Linked DNA regions of Homo sapiens: region 1 is linked to region 2. The links come from fine-mapping of genetic effects on gene expression. A gene starts in region 2. The other region holds a variant in brackets. All regions are shown on one strand. Distances are from middle to middle.

Region 1 (5,360 bases), 170 kb before region 2:
CAAAGGCTCCCAGTACCAGCTTGTACTTCTCTGCCTCGTCAGCCACCTTGAATGATTTGTACTTAGCAAACTGGTGGTTGCCCTCAAAGTCCACCAGGTCTACACGGAGCTCGCTGCTTCCTGTTGGAAAAAGATTTTAAGGCCCCAGCCTTTAAGATCTTTCTGTCACCAGGCATGAGGGCTGGGGATGGGTAATTTTTTTTTTTTTTTTTTTGAGACAGAGTTCCGCTCTTGTTGCCCAGGCTGGAGTGCAATGGCACCATCTCAGCTCACTGCAACCTCCGCCTCCTGGGTTCAAGCAATTCTCCTGCCTCAGCCTCCCCAGTAGCTGGGATTACAGGTGTGTGCCACCACACACAGCTACTTTTTTTTTTTTTTGTATTTTTAGTAGAGATGGGGTTTCACCATGTTGGTCAGGATGGTCTCGATCTCTTCACCTCATGATCCACCAGCCTCAGCCTCCCAAAATGCTGGGATTACAGGTGTGAGCCACGGTGCCCGGCTGGGGATGGATATATTCTTAAGGGATGTCTGAACGTGGCATCCAGGAAAAAAATCAACCGGAAATGTCAGAAAATCCCTTGTTGCTATCAGGCCCTCAGGGATGGCTTTCTGTTTCTAAACACCTTTCCCGTTATTTCAGAGAACTGAACATGCCCCACTGGAGTTCACTGGGTGGAAGGGAGCATTCTTTCATTTTGAAAGTGTACCTTCTCCTTCTAAGGGTTGGTGAGCCACTAACACAGCAGTGGGCGAAGCTCTAATTGTAGTTTCTTTTGCAGGAATTTGAGGCACCTGAGTGGATTCCTTCAATCATGCCACAGGGCAGTGGGCAGGGATAATGGACCAGCAATTATACAGACTGCCTCAGGACCAGCTGTGAAACTCATCCCCTGCCCCAGAGGGTTGGGGGGAGGCCCTCTCACTCAGGTGAGTGCGGCTGTGGGGGGCCTGCTGAGGCGTGGGCTGGAGGAGGCGAGCGTGGGCTCTCCATGGGACTAAGATGCCAGCTTCAGAGGCAGATCAACAGCTGGAGATGGGGGAAGGCTACCCCAAGCCCCAGTGGTCTCTCTCCTGCTTCCCACTCTCAGGATCTAAGATGCCAGTAGGACCAAGACCTGAAGAGGCCTTCAGCCCAGGGCTCTAACCGTTTCCCTTCCCGATGTTGCCAGAGCCTGCGGCAGGGGACGCAGCCCTTAGAGGTCCCAGTGCCACCTGAGTGTGCTCAGGGCCCAATCCCCTGTGGGCCAAGAGGTGCTTATGTTGCAGATGGCCCAGGCCTAAGGGGCAGGAGCACCTCAGGGCCCCCCAACCCCTGAGCCACGGCAGTGGCCCTACCCTGGGCAGTCAGGGCGTGGATGTTGTCATTCCCCAGCCAGAACTCCCCCAGCTGACTGCCGAAGCCCTGCTTGTATGCGGCCCAGTCCCGATAGAAGTCCACAGAGCCATCCATCCTCCGCTGGAAAACCTGTGAAGAAGCCAGGATACAGAGTTAGGCGGGGCAGGCCGAGGTCCCACAGCACCGGGGACCCGCCCTCCAGAGGAGCAGCATTTGTAGTTGGCAGAGCATCACAGGCCGGTGCCACACGCACGCCCATCTGGTCTCCTCACAGACTCCACAGGATGAAAGAGGAAATGCGGTCTCAGAGAAGAGAGGCAACAAGCCCCAAGCCACACAGCAGGAGAGCACCGGTCCCCTCCCAGCCTCCCCGATGGCCTGGACTTTTACCCACGGGTCACTTCCCCCATCATCTATGATTGTCCCCATCCAGGGGAATAGAGAATTCCAGAGTGTGTTCTACAACCAGGTGTGCAGCCTGGCCTCCGGGACTCCCAGGCTGACCGCCTCTGCCCAGCCCCACACTCACGGTCCAGCCCCCTCCGTCCGTGTCCATGTCACAGAGCACAGTCAGGGGCCGGCAGTCGGGCAGGTAGATGGTGTGCCAGCCGCTCAGGAAATACCCCCGGTCTAGCAGGTCCTTGCAGTTGCGTGGGCCTGGGAAGGGAACCCGGGGAATGGCTGCAGGACGGGGGCCCTGGGCAGGACAGGGGCAGTGGGAGGGAGGCCCAGGAGGGAGGAGGAGGGCCACAGGCTTCTGTGCGGACCGAGCAGGACTCCGAGGCCTGGACAGGGACACGGCCCCCAGGGCCACGCAGCTGTGATGCCCACACCCAGTCTGCCGACCCTCCCACCTCCCAGTGTCTGCCCCACCTTTGCCTCCTGGGCACCCGGCCTTCTAGGGTAGATAATAGTAGAGCCCAGGTTGTCATGGAAGGGATTCAGGTGATAGCTGCCCATTACTCGAGTGATTGAGGGGGGGATGATAGGTGCAGACAGGGTTCTGTCCTTAGATTCCGTAGCGTGAACGTGTGCAGCTGGCCCCAGGGGTGGGGGCAAGGCTTGGGTACCGAGGTCAGGGTGTGATCAGTCACCTGTCGCACACGACTGAGACTGCCCAGCGTCTCCTGTGTGGGGAGAGGAGACACTTGTCATAAGCTTGAAATCAGAGCCTTTGTCCTGGTCAGCCCCAGTGGCTCCCTGAGCACAGAATAGAGAATGGGCAAAGGCAGCTCCTCTGATGTCTCCAGGACACGTGGCACAGGCCTAGGGAAGGATGGCCAGACTCGACTTCCCCAGAGGCACCAGCCACATGGTTGTCCATAGGCCCCTGCTGTGCAGCTTGAGCTTGGTGGGCTGTGGCAGGCGCTGCGGGTCCTGCTGGACGAACTGGACCCCTAGTGGGGCCTTCGCCACTGATAACAGCGGAATAACTCTTCAAGCCTGGCAGGGTCACTCCAAGCCTGCCCTGCCTCCGCCCTGGCCTCTGTTTCTTGGGACTCAGGTATCGGCGGACCCTCAGCCCCCGGCTCCGGTTTTCATTTGTGTTTGTGGGTGGAGCGTGGTACAGTGTATTAGAGTCTTGCACATTTGGCTTTTTTAAACTTTTACAATTTTTGCATAAATGAGCATAAGTAAGACAGAAATTGAAATATTGAAGTGTCACCATCTATGCACTGATGTGGTCCTGCTGGCCACTGGGAGTGACTGCTGTAGACACCAGGGTTTGAGCCCTCGTGGATTCTGACAACAAAGCCCGCTGGACTCCTTCCACCCCTCCCTGCCCACAGCCTGGATTGACAGGGACGTGGGCGGTGGGCAGGCGGACTGAGGCCTCTGAGACCCCTCCCCTGGACAAAGCCTGCAGAGACAACTGCCTGGGCCCACGGGTGGCTCACCTTTCTCTCCACGCATCCCCTTCTCTCCT[C/T]GGTCTCCTGGAGGAAGAGGCAGGATAATGAGCTTTTGACCCCAGATGTGTGGGCCACGGAAAGGCTGGTCCAGAGTGGGCTCCCGGCCTGGACACTGCATCTCCCCAGCCCTGCAGGCTCACTAAGGCATCACAACGCCCAGGTCTCAATGGTGGGGAGGGGCCCCGAGGCCTGGAATATCCCAGGGTCCCTGTCCGCCTGCCACTGTCTTTCTCTCTCTGTTGCCGTGTCTCTCTGTGTCTGTGTCTGTGTCTCTGTCTCTGTCTCTCCCTCCCTCATTTCATTACAGACAGCTCCAAGGTCCCTGCTCAAGGCCTCCTCGCTGTCTGTCCCCTGGTTACCTTTGGGCCCCACTGGTCCTGCCTTTCCAGGGGCTCCAGGGAGACCGCGTTCTCCTGAAAATTCCAAAGACATATCACTGAGAAAAATGCAACCTAAACAATTCTCCCTGGAAATCTTTGCCCCAAGTGGTTAAGTCCTGACCCTCCCCCACTCTGCCTTGAACCCCTTCTGGTTCCAGGAGCTCTCAGAATTGCTAGCCATGGATTTAGCCTGGGGGTGACTGCAGATGGAGGTGAGGGATTGAGGGAGGGGCCTGCACCCCACCTTGGGCTCAAGGCAAGGTGCACCTTGCTCCTGTTTGTGCCTTGGGAGCAACCTGGGTTTCACACTCTGTTGACCATAAGCCTGGACCCAAGTCACCCACACAGAGCTCTACTGCCTAGCAAGGGACCAGGTTCTGGAACAAAGAATGCGTCCTCAGAGAGCCTCATCCTACCACGTCCCCACACGGAGAGGGTGGGCGCCACGTGCAGCCGCTGCTGCCAGGGAGGATCCGGTTCCACCGTGCGCCTGAGCTCCTGGGGTGTCACACAGCGCTCCACGTGGTTCTGGCCAGAAAGGTGACCCTCCCGTCCCCGATGCCAGCCAAGAGGCAGCCCCCAGCCCGCTCGCTGACCCCAGTGGCTGGGGAGAGTGTATGGGGGCTGGTTCTTGCTTTAGGGTATATTAGCCAGCCATGCCCACTGGTAGAAGCCTGGTTCAAGGGAAGTCTGAGCCAGACTTGATTCTTCTCCTGCCAGGGAAGGTCTTCCTCCCCAGTGTTCCCTCAGCAGGGGATCGGGACCGCACTCTCAGGTCCAGCCTGCGGAGTGGGCACAGAGGACCTGGCCCCGGACACCCACACGGAAGCCTAGACACGTCAGTGAAAGTCCAAGTCATAGGGACATTTGAGCTTGTCCCATCTACACTGGGACATCCCCACCAAGTGCTCCGCAGGCATCATCTTGAATGCGTCCAGGCATGGGGAGCTCACCCCCTAAGGCAGCGCCCTTTCTGAGTTTTTGTGCACGTCTGCCTTATGCCATGCTTAGGGGGACCCAAAACCACCCAAGGCAGGTGCCTGCTGTTCATTCTCCCATGTTCCCTGCAAATCCACATGCAGAGCTCAGGGCTCAGGATTCGGGTGCCCTCTGTGCCCTGAAGTAGACCAGTCCAAGTCCCAGCCCCACTCCTTACTGGTTTGTCAAGTAGGAAAGCCTGTGACCTCTTTGAGTCTCAGTTTTCCCATATGAGGCAGGTGCAGAAGAAAGCGGTCACCTCAATTTTCAGGTGAGAAGGTGGAGGGACACAGAGCTTAGAAGTCGTGCCAGTAGCTGAGCAAAGCTGGTATTGGATCAAGGACTAGGAGACAGAGCTACAGAAGCATGTCCAAATGTGAGCTCATGAAATAGTTAGGAAAGACCCTCCCTCCATTTCAGAACCCTGTTGGGCCCTGGGAGTCAGCTCTGTTCCTGGCTCTAGCAGGGGCCTGACCCAGGCTCTTGATCTAGGAACCACGGTGGGGGTGTTGCCCAACTCTGCATCCAGTTTCATAAAGAGCAAGAGCCAGTGCCCCTGCCATGCCTGGCCTCCCCACCCGGCCCGCACCTACCTCTCTCTCCAATGACACCTGCCTCTCCCTTTGGCCCTGGGGCCCCGGGCAGCCCCGGGCAGCCTCGGAGAATGGTGAGCTTGTCAGAGCCCTCCAGGCCCACCACCTTCACCTCTGCAGAGAAACACAGGTGCCCACTCAGTGCCTGGCCCAACAGTGG
Region 2 (5,360 bases):
GGGTGCCAGGCATGGCAAAGCCCCAGTGCCACCAGGGGCGCAGCACCTGCCCCATCAGCATCCGTATGATTGTTCAGAGCTGCAGGTGTGATGAGCCCTGGCTTTAAGAGAAGTCGTGAAGAAATTGGGATTGAAAGTCCTCTTTAGGAACACTTGGTATTGCCTGGCGCCATGGATCCCCTAATCCAAATGCCTTCATTCTTCAACGATCCATACTTTCCTTCTGGAATGCTCCATGGCCTTCTAAATCCAATTACACTTACTCAAGCCTTATCTGACGACCCTTTCAAAACCATTATGCCCACTGAATCACAGATTTTAGAAACTGGACAGGACAGTTTGGAGCAGGTGCAGGTTGGAGCCGCTCAGGTGCAGGTTGGAGCCGCTCAGGTGCAGGTTAGAGCAGTCCAAGTGCAGGTTAATCTTTTACTTCGTTAAATAAATAAATGTCTATGGCTTCTGAGATGGCCTGACAGTTTTGTGGATTGGATTGGGTTGCATTTGAATTTGTTCCCGCAGAACAAGTGGTCCTTGTCCTTCCGCAGCGGGAAGCGGCGTGAGTGATCTGGACAGACACGGCTTGTGGCCTTGAATCGGTGTTAAACATGCATGGCCAGAGGAGGGGGGCGAAGCCAGCCCAACCGGACTTGTGTCTCCGCCTGGGCCCAGTCTGTGAGCCGGGCCTGCAGTCCCAGCTTACACTGGGAGATGGCGCCCTTCCCCAACAGTTGGAATTTCCTGGCATCCGACCCAGCCCGGCTGCCTGAGATTACAGCATTAATCAGAAAAGCAGATCTGAGGGGCTCATTTAACTAGCGGGTCTCACACCCAGCACTCAGGCCAGGATCATCTTGGCTGCAGCTGAAGTCTCTTCAGCCGAGGACTGCGCACACAGAGAGAAAAGCCCCAGGAAGGCGTTGTTCCTCTCAGGCGGGCGCCAGGGAGGCGCGCTCCTTCCGGCCCGGCGTCCGTCTTTCAAATCCCATCCAGGAAGGGAGATTAATTTTCGCCCAGGCAGAGAAGAGTGTAGTGAGTGATCTGGAGGATTCTTTCCTTCCCAAATGGCTGGGAAAGCTTAATGGAAGGCCCCGGAGGAAGTGGCTTTCATCTCCGATTAGAAGCCTTCTGTAAATGCAAAAGCCCTATTAACGTGTTTGACCCAGTCAGGCCTGCGCTTCAGGTGGGACTGACACGCGTGAGTCCTGCTGCGGTCGCCGCAGAGGGCCGGGAAGAGGGGCAGCGTGCGCCACTTGCCCTGCCTCTGTGCCTGGGCGCCATGACTCGAGCGCCACCCCTGAGTCAGTAAGGACACCCCCCAACCCACACCCCTCCACCACAGACCCCAGTCCCCGCCCCACACACCCACCTCCCCAACACCAGGTTCATGGGCGTGGTCCCTTCAGCTCCTGAGGTCCAGGCCTGAGCCCCAGACCTTATGCAGCTCCTGCCGGGTGTGCGCCCTCCCAGGGCCCTCACTGCGCACCGCGGGCCACGGCAGACCACCCCAGCCCCCGCCTTGCTGTGCAGGTGTCAGGAGTGCCGGTTGGCTCCCTTCCTCCCAAGCAAGGCCTTAGGGCACCGCGGCTGCCCTGGGATCGCAGGGGCGCCTTTAGCTCTCCACCGATGCCCCGACGCCCCCCTGGCGCTGGAGGCCCTCGCGAGTCTGGCTGCTTTTCGGAGCCTGCCCTGCCTGCTGGGTTTCAGGCGACGGCCCAGGCTGGCTGGGACCCTCGAATCACCGCGGAAAAGGGCTCCAGTAGGCAGGACGGCGCCGTCTCTCTGCCGGCAACCTTTGCCCCAAAGCGGACCCTCTGCGGGGATCGGAGAGGGATGCCCCGGCGTGAGGATGGGAGAAGCCCCGGGACGGGAGGGCCGCGGGCCGTGCCCCCAGCTGGAGTCCCCGCGCCGCCGCCGGGTATTTTATGATCTGGGGGTGGTGGTGTGTCCGTCTCCTCATGTCACCCTGATCCCAACTCCTGGGCGGACTGGAGTTTGCAGACCTCGCTGCCAGCAGCCAGGGGGCGGCGGGGAGCCGAGCGAGAGGAAAAATCCACCCATTTCCTGGGCGGATTGCGTCGGTCCCGCCCGGCCGAGCCCCGCCTCCCGGCCGCGGCCCCCGCGCGCAGCCCGCGCAGCGCTCAGAGCCGGACGGCGCTTCCCGGTGGCGGCGGAGGAGCCCGGAGGGACGCAGCCGGGCAAGGCAGGGCGCAGGGCGGGCGGCGCGAGGCGCAGGGCGCGGCGGGCAGAGGCCACCTGGCCACCTTCCCTGGCGCCCGGGGAAGGCGCGGCGATGGCCGGGGCGCGCGGGGCGGCGGCGGCGGCGGGCGGGCGGCGGCGGGCCGAGGGGGCGCGGGGACACAGCCAGGCGCCCCTGCCCGCCGCGGTGCCCGCCGCCTGAAGGCCGCCTGGGCGCGGGAGCCGGTGCCAGCTCGGAGCGGGCGCTGGAGGCAGCTCGAGGCGCGATGTCGGTGCCGCTGCTCAAGATCGGGGTCGTGCTGAGCACCATGGCCATGATCACTAACTGGATGTCCCAGACGCTGCCCTCGCTGGTGGGCCTCAACACCACCAAGCTCTCGGCGGCCGGCGGCGGGACGCTGGACCGCAGCACCGGCGTAAGTGCGCCCGCCGGCCGCCTTGGCGCGGCTCCTCCTCCTCCTCCTCCTCCCCCTCCTCGGTCCGGAGCCCCGGGCTGGGCGGGCGCCGCGCGGGACCCGAGTCGCCCAGGGAGGCGGCGGGGAGCAGGGCGGGCAAGGGCAGGCGTCGCGGGCCGGCGCAGCGGTGGCGACCCTGCTCCCCGCTCCCCCAGCCTGGGCCACTCCATCTCCGCCCGCGCGCCCCTGGGGCGGCGTTTCCTTCGTCTGGGCCCCTCGCCGCGGGGCCGGGGGAGCTTGGTGGGTTCTCGGAGGCTTGGAGTCCTGGGTCAGTAATCATGAGCCCCCCATTGAAAAGGTTAGGAAACTAAGGCTGGGGACTTGGGGACTTGTCCAAGGTCACACTCAGCGAGTGAGGGGTGGAGCCGCCGCTAGACCCTAGTCTGGGCTCGGTCCAGCGGGGACTGAGCCCGCCCTAGTTTGTAAAAGCCAGACTGGCCGGACCGGGCTGGGAGTGGGGCCCCAGCCGGTGGGCTCCGGAGCTCCTGCCCGCGCCTGCATTCCCAAAGTCCCAAGGCGCCCTTTCCTCCCCAGTCCATAGGAGGGTTTGTTCCTTCTCCTCCGAGGACGGTGCCGAGGGGCTTGGGTGGGGCCCCTGGGAGCCTGCCCTTGGGCGCTCACCCCCTCGCCTTTGCCTTCGTCTTCTGCGCGCACCCCTCCCTCCTGGCCTCTGAAATTGAAATCGCGTCTCCCTCTCGAGCCTAGCGGGAGGGGAACCGTGGCCGGGGCTGCTTCTGGGCAGAGCTGACTTAGATGGCTGAGCGAGGCTGAGCTGAAACCGCCACCCGGAGGGCCGCGCGGGGAAGGGGCCGCTGCCGGGAAGGCGCGCCCCAGACCACTGGCCCTTTAGGCTGAAAGGAGAGGTGAAGGACGTGAGTCTCCCTCCCTCTCTCTTTTTGCTGCCAGGGGTTTAGTGCCCTGCGAAGAGGGCTCCGTGGTGTGGCTCCCTCCTAAGACCCCTCTTGAGGCCGCCCTCCCTGCTCCTTCAGGAATCGGAGGGCGATTCCTCCATGATGACTTTGTTCCGGCCTGCCGGTCCCGATCTTCTGGGGTTGGGAATGAATGAGATTAAAGATATGACTACTATAGATTCTACCCGCCCAACTTCTCCTCCCCATCTTCATGCTAAAAATAGCAGAGAGATGACCTGATGCCACCGGAGGGGAGCGTGCTCAGAGACAGTAGGGCCAGCAGCAGGATGGAGCTGTGTAGGCTCAGGAGTGCCCGCCCCGGTACCTGGCAGGGCTGGGCTGCAAGGTTAGACCAGACATGGGCAGCTCCGGTTTCTTTGGTGATCTTTGGGCAAACCTCAGGACTGAGGTTGGGGGTGACCCCTGCACAGCATGTCACCAGCAATTTGGCGACCTCCACCAAATGGCTCGTGGGGGGAGCCCACAAGGAGCTGGAAACCTAGTGTTTTCTCGGGTCGGTCTGTGCCACGCTGCCGGCTGGGAGGTTGCTGTAGCTCGGGGTTCATCACAGCTCTGGGCGAATAGGCTGCTGGATCTGGGGCTGTTACAGTGGGTGCTTCGTCTGCAAGTGTCAGGGAACGGCAGGGCGAGGCTTGGTGGTGCCAGCCACCCGTGCTTGACTTACGGGAAGGATATCCTGTTTCTGAAATACGTGCCCGCTGCAAGCCACCCAGCGTTTGCTTTCCTGCCTTGCTCCTAGTCCAGCCTGTGGCCTCCAGTTGCCCCTCCCATCCACCCAGCAGATCAATTTGGCCAGACGACAAACTCCAGACATCCCTTGAGTTGAACTTAAATTTTAAGAACGTAAAGGGTCTTGCCTCTTTGACATCCTTCCAGCCCTGAGCCCCCTAACAGGAGACCTGTGCCTCTTTGTTCCCAGGGACCCTTTCTTCCCTTTGGGTCAAACATGTCTTGGGACCATTTCCTCCCATCTTTTCCTTGGGGGTGGATGTGGACAGTTTCCCCTGGTTGTTGGCTCTGATACACAACCTCATGGTCTCCCTTTCTCTCCTTCCCTCTCCCTTCCCGCCCCGCCCCTCTCCAGGTGCTGCCCACCAACCCTGAGGAGAGCTGGCAGGTGTACAGCTCTGCCCAGGACAGCGAGGGCAGGTGTATCTGCACAGTGGTCGCTCCACAGCAGACCATGTGTTCACGGGATGCCCGCACAAAACAGCTGAGGCAGCTACTGGAGAAGGTGAGTCTGCGCAGAGTGTGTGAGTTTGTATGTGTGTGTGTTTGTGTGTGTGTGTGTGTGTGTACATGCCTGTGTGCTCACACCAGCACCAAGGCTTGGCTAGCTTGCAGGCCCCATTTTGACTCTTTCCTGGTTTGTCTCCACTCAAAATATTTGTGAATGAGTGAAAGGGTGGATGGACGGATGGGTGGATGGGTGGGTGGATGGATGGACGGATGGGTGGATGGGTGGGTGGACACACAGGTGGATTGAGACTTCCAAGGGTGGTCCAGGAAGAGAGGACTAGACCTGCCCCCTGTCACCACAGGCTCCACTGAGAAGTCACATGGGCATGGTGAGACGGGACACAAGGCTCGTCTCTGAGTGATGTCATAATCTGTGTGCACAGGGCTGGGGCTGTCACCCAGCAGCTACCTTGGAGAGCGCCCATAGGCCCAGGAATGCATGGCCATTTGGATTTTACGAGATGAGATCTTTTTTCTGCCCTTGAATGGTTGTACCTGGCCAGTGGCTGGACAGGTGCTCATCACCATGAATGCCTTC

What was found. PIP is the estimated chance that this variant, and not a neighbour inherited with it, causes the effect.
Region 1: its variant is fine-mapped to the expression of OLFM1 in whole blood (TOPMed, PIP above 0.99).

The regions. Positions count from the first base shown.
Region 1 is chr9:134,911,148-134,916,507 of GRCh38, forward strand. It overlaps FCN1 (ficolin 1), which reads right to left. Exons shown (of 9, transcript NM_002003.5): 2 at 5,201-5,314; 3 at 3,609-3,662; 4 at 3,238-3,273; 5 at 2,434-2,466; 6 at 1,869-1,996; 7 at 1,339-1,468; 8 at 1-120. Among named protein-coding and RNA genes, the nearest start is that of FCN1, 4.1 kb to the right of the region's middle. The variant C/T (reference allele first, on the strand shown) is at 3,267.
Region 2 is chr9:135,085,528-135,090,887 of GRCh38, forward strand. OLFM1 (olfactomedin 1) reads left to right here and starts at 2,141. Exons shown (of 6, transcript NM_001282611.2): 1 at 2,141-2,612; 2 at 4,668-4,817. The coding sequence starts at 2,463. RefSeq lists enhancers at 441-1,301, 1,302-2,162, 2,797-3,601, 3,602-4,405.